2 separate regions of the Homo sapiens genome follow, and region 2 is linked to region 1. The links come from fine-mapping of genetic effects on gene expression. Tissue or cell type: cerebellar hemisphere. Region 1 holds a variant in brackets; the other region holds the start of a gene. All regions are shown on one strand. Distances are from middle to middle.

Region 1 (2,752 bases):
ATCTTGGAGAGATAACTACAATTGAAGGGAAAGGCCCAGTCAGGGCCTGTTCTGCAGAGCCCTGAGCCAGTTCAGGTGGAACACGAGGCAGGTCTGTCCAGGGGAAGTGGGCAGAGACGTCCTGGAGACAAAGGAGATGGGGTCTGGGAGCTGGTGTATGGCAGTGGAGAGAGACGCAGCCTCTGTGTCCGTCATGTGAACTGTAACAGGGTCTAAGTGAGCATCTGTCACTTGGATTTGGATGTCTCTATCACCTCCCATCAGACCAGGAGCTTCTGGGAGCAATATTGCTCTTCCCAACTGCCTAGAGCCTGCAGGGTGAGCCAGCTGCACAGCCCACCAGCCGGCAAGACAGGATCTCAGATGAGGGTGACCGAGTGCCCTGATTTTCCTGGGATTGAGTGGTTTCCTAAGACAGGAGACTTTCCAGGTGGTCCTGGGTAAACTGGGAGGAGCTGGTCACTCTACCTCAGACTGTCCCCACAGGGCAGGAGCCCTGGGCCAGACCTGTTGGGCTGGAGTTGCTGGGCTGGGGTGCCAAAGGGAAAAGCCCACACTGTCTACATGAGCCTAGGACCAGGTAATCAGTTCATGCTCACATGAACAGCACCACCTGCCTCAGAGACAGCTCCCAACCTTCTGGAAAAGGTTCAGTGATCTTAGTCCTGATCATTTTCGGGGAAATATGTTTTTGGTTTTTTTTGTTTTTTGAGACGGAGTCTTGCTCTGTCACCAGGCTGGAGTGCAATGGCGCAACCTTGGCTCACTGCAACCTCCGACTCCCTGGTTCAAGCGATTATTCTGCCTCAGCCTCCTGAGTAGCTGGGATTACAGGCACACGCCACCATGCCCAGCTAATTTTTGTATTTTTACTAGAGACAGGGTTTCACCATGTTGGCCAGGATGGTCTCAATCTCCTGACCTTGTGATCCGCCCGCCTCGGCCTCCCAAAGTGCTGGGATTACAGGCGTGAGCCACTGTGCCAGCCCTGGGAAATATGTTTTACTTTAATTAGTTAGAAGTCTCCTGGTCACACCCAAAAATTTGGCTTCTATTCAAGTTTGAGAATTCAAAGGCCTCCAAAATGCCACTTTTGCACTTTGCACCTGTTCGCCAAGAAAAGTCTTAGGGACATTCAGCGCCCTACAAGATTGATTCCACCCCATCCTTCCAACTGGAATATCTCTAATATCCCTAACTATCTGAAGTGCTCCTCATATTCTAGCCAAC[G/A]TGGCCTGCTCAGTGGCCCGTTCCCATCCCTCCTCCTTCCCTCTGCCACTCTCTCTTCCCTCAGCTTTGTCTGCCTGAAGGGCTGCCTCCGCACAGCTCCTGTGCTTGAATTCCACCCAAACTTAAAGACTTAGCTCAAGCATCACTTCTCCAGGAAGCTTCTCCAGTCCCCCAGGCAGAAGATGCTCCTGACTCCTCTGACCCTCTTCTAAAGCCTGATCTCACTGGCAGTGGCTGGTCAGGGCTCCCACCTGGGGCCAACTTGTCTGGAACCCATGAGAGTAAGCTCCTATCAGATTCATTGTTGGCCCCCACCTGCCTTCACTCTGCTGTCAGGGGTCAGCATATAGAATTAACACACAAATGAACAAACCCATGATGCCCAACTGGGAGATGTCCTGACTGTTTCCTCACCTGTCACCCTGACAGAGCAAGGAGGGCCTTCACAGAAGCTCACCTATTCTTCAGTCATTCATTTACTCATTTAGCCAACGTCACTGAGCCTTCTACATGGCGACAAGGTGAACAAGATGCTGGAATTCCATGCCCTCACAGGCCAGCAGAAAGGATGATTTTGTAATGACCACCGTTGCAGCACAGGTTCAGAGAAGGAAGGAGAAGGTGCTCTGGGAATGTGCAATGGAAGGCCTGGCCCAACTGGGGTCAAGAAGGCTTCCCAGAGCACAGGAAACAAGTGGAGAAGAGGATGAAGGAGATGTGTCCCTGCTGCCATCTCAGAAGAGAAAGCAAGGGGTTTGGGAGTGAAAGGCACACACTCTGTCTCTGCTTCTTTATCCTGGCCCTGTGATCACCTGCCTCCGTTTCTCCATCAGTACAATTGGTTAACAGGGTCGCCCTCACTGGGCTGTTGTGAAGATTTGTGGGGATAATAGATGGAAAGCACTCAGCACACGGCCAAGCTCTTTCCAAGAAGGGGATTACTGCTGTCACTGTGATCCACGCAGCTCACAGGAGGCCGAGGATTCCAGGCAGCCAGACCTCTGGGTCCGGCTGAGCTGGACAATAATCCTGCCTCATGATTAGCCCTGACCAGAAGGGGAGGAAGAACGGGGCACAGCTGGGCCTCCCCAGCTGCCAGGTGGGCCAGCCCAGGTCAGACCGTGGGATCCTGAAGGAGTGGCCAGGGACCCAGAGTTTGAAGGGGTAGGACGCTGGATGTAGGTGAGAGGAGGTGGCCCTCGCAGGCGTGGCTGAGGATGGGGCTGGGCAGAGGAATGAGACAAAGAGCAGACAGAGCCCAGAGAACATCCTCTCCAGCTGCTCGCCCTCCCTCCCTCCCTGCTGCACAGAGTATTAGTGAAATGATTTCTAGCGATGGATGCAGCAGGGCTCTGACATTTACAGGCCACTAGATGTCTTCAGGGCCAGCTGGGTGTTTAAAAGCCTGTGTGAACACCATGCTGTTAGGGGAAGGAGCTAACCACGGACCGGAAACCCCCGAGGTGTGCAAGTAGCCACGTCACTTCTCAGCAGGAAGAGCTGGGGTGCAGCAAGCTGAGAT
Region 2 (2,617 bases), 130 kb before region 1:
TGCCAACTGCCTGAGCAAACAATGTCCCCTCTCTAAGCTTCAGTTTCCTCTTACTGTAAAATGGATATGATAATACCTGACCCACTTCACAGATTAACGGCTTCGGCATGCATGGCTCCTGGAGATGCTCCCTAAAAGTCACTTGTTTGTTTGTTTGTTTTGTTTATTTGAGACAGAGTCTCGCTCTGTCGCCCAGGCTGGAGTGCAATGGCGCGATCTCGGCTCACTGCAACCTCTGCCTGCTGGGTTCAAGCCATTCTCCTGCCTCAGCCTCCCGAGTAGCTGGGATTACAGGCACTTGCTACCATGCTAGGCTAATTTTTTGTATTTTTAGTAGAGACTGGGTTTCACTATGTTGGCCAGGCTGGTCTCAAACTCCCACCTCGCGATCCTCCCGCCTCGGCCTCCCAAAGTGCTGGGATTACAGGCATGAGCCACTGCGCCCGGCCAAGTCACTTGTTTATTAATGCTATTGTTAAGTTATTGAGTTGTTATTAATATTAAGGGGAACAGTAACCCAGAATAGTCTGAGCCTTGCCTTATTGACATTCAATGGTGTTGCCTCTTGCAGAGACCTTTTTTGGATGTAGTGACCATGGCCCATTTTGGCCACCACTTCTGATCCTGGATGTATCTTTCAGAGCTGCATATCCGGTCCCCCTCCTCTACCCTACTCGGGGCCTCAGAGCTGAGGTTCCTGTCTTTACCTGCAGATTTCTCTGAACAAAAGAAAAGGTAAACTGATCAGCGGCCCAGGCTCCCAGTTCTGCCTCAGGGCAAAGGGAGAAATTGGGGCCCAGGGCCTCATTCAGTGGAAAATATTTGTTGAACACCTAGTATGTGCCAGGACCTGTGCTGAGCACCAGGAACACAGGGGAACAAGACCAAACCCTGCAAGGTAGGAGGCTAAAGGAGGAGACAGAAGACAACAAAACGACAGTGTGCTGAGTACAGGGACTGTTCTAACCAACAGAAAAACAGACAGGATCAGGGAAAGCTTCCCAGAAGAGAGCTTCCCTTTGAGTTGGAGCTTTACGGCCGGGCAGAAGTTCCACAGGTGCTCAGAGACTGACAGGACCACCAGCCTGTTGAACAGAAGAGGAGACTGAGCCCCAGCGCCTCTCGACCCCTCCCCGCCACACCTCACCTACCCGGACTAGGCTGAACGGGCCGAGCACTCGAGCGGGGACGCGCAGCTCTGCAGAGCCCCGGGGCGGGGCCTCGGTCCAGGTGCGCGGTAGCGCTTCGCGGAGGCAGGAAGTGTGTCCCTAGCGGCGGCCCGTGCAGCGCTCCCGCGAGACGCTCACCTGCGCCCCAGGTGAGCGGCGAGGGGGCGGGGGAGGGGCTGAGCCGGAGGCGGCTCACCTGGCGGGACAGGTAAGCCCGGCGCGGGCCCAGGGGGGCGCAAGCCAGGGCGGCGCCGGTGTCGGGAGCCCCCCGAAGCTGAGCCCGGACAGGAGAGGGTCCCGGGCCCGGTTCCTCGGGGGCCACCCTCCTACTTCCGGGGTGCGCGGGCCGGGCTGGGGAGCGGCCTGAGCGGGCGCCCGGGCTGGGCGCGCAGAATGGGGTGAGGGGCCGCGTTCGCCCTTAGGGCTGCACTGGCTGGGTGCGGGGGCCGCACTCACCGGGGGGCAGCGTCGGGATGGGACAAACGCTGGTGCTCACCCCGAGGAACAGCGTCGGGACGGGAGGGAGGCTGGGTCCGCCCGCGGGGTAGGGCCCTTGCAGCTGGAGAGGGTAGTGCTCGCCCCGAGGGCAGAGTTGGTGTAGGGGCTGTGGTAGCCCGGGGGACAGTGCCAGGATCTGGTTCTTCCTTGTCCCCAGGACTAGCTGCCCGCGGATATGGGACTCTCGGGCTGCACCTTTGGGGCAGGAGGCCGAGGGTGCACTGAGCCGACGGCTGTTTCTCGAGCAGGACTGGGGTGGTCCTCCCCGGCCGGGTGTCCGAGGCTTGGCACTGGGCTGGGGGCAGAGGCTGGTGCGGCCGGGCCTGTCCTGGGGACCCTCGGAGGAGGGGACGGTACATAGACCCTTGAGTGTGTGTGTGTGTTCGCGGGACTAAGGGGGAAGAGGAAAGCATCAACGAGAAATCCAGGGAGGGCGGGCCGGGACCCTCTGACCCCCGGGAACATCCTTGCGGTGCCTTAGATCGCCTAGTGACCTAGCCCCTCCCATGGGCAAGGCCACTGCGGGAAGCCCCCTGCACTCAATATTTCATTTAAATCTCACGGGATTGGCGGGGCATGAAGATACTAGTCTCTCCTTATTTAAAGATGAGGAAAGTGAGGTTAAGAATCTTGCCTCAAGCCACAATAGGGACAGGGAGTCTCCCCTCACTAAACCAAGTGACCAGGTTCCTAGGATTGGGCGGGGTGGTGGCGGGGCGGTGGCAGCAGGGTCGGGGAGATACAGCCTGGAAGAAACTGCCTGAGTTTGACTTCAGGAGGGTTCAATGGCTGGAGGGAAGTGGGGAACTGAGGCAGGCATTGTCCTTATCCCAGGTCTTCTCTTCTCATCCCACCACCGCTGGAGATGTGTGGCACACACAAAGTACGCAGGCTTCAGAGCCTGGCGGGCCACAGTGCAAATCTTACTCCAGCCCTCTCTTGCTAGGTGT

Which allele goes with the higher level. Positions count from the first base shown, and alleles are read on the strand shown. Sizes are in standard deviations (SD) of each study's normalised expression.
With allele G in place of A in region 1, the expression in cerebellar hemisphere of the gene that starts at base 1,259 in region 2 is lower (small effect, 0.32 SD a copy in GTEx).

What was found. PIP is the estimated chance that this variant, and not a neighbour inherited with it, causes the effect.
Region 2: it holds the start of KDF1, and the variant in region 1 is fine-mapped to the expression of KDF1 in cerebellar hemisphere (GTEx, PIP 0.99).

What each region holds. Positions count from the first base shown.
Region 1 is chr1:26,833,658-26,836,409 of GRCh38, reverse strand. The region is part of intron 2 of ZDHHC18 (zDHHC palmitoyltransferase 18); the gene reads right to left. Among named protein-coding and RNA genes, the nearest start is that of ZDHHC18, 8.3 kb to the right of the region's middle. RefSeq lists an enhancer at 2,582-2,681. The variant G/A (reference allele first, on the strand shown) is at 1,231.
Region 2 is chr1:26,959,110-26,961,726 of GRCh38, reverse strand. It overlaps KDF1 (keratinocyte differentiation factor 1), which reads left to right and starts at 1,259. Exons shown (of 4, transcript NM_152365.3): 1 at 1,259-1,377. RefSeq lists a silencer at 1-269 and an enhancer at 1,139-1,821.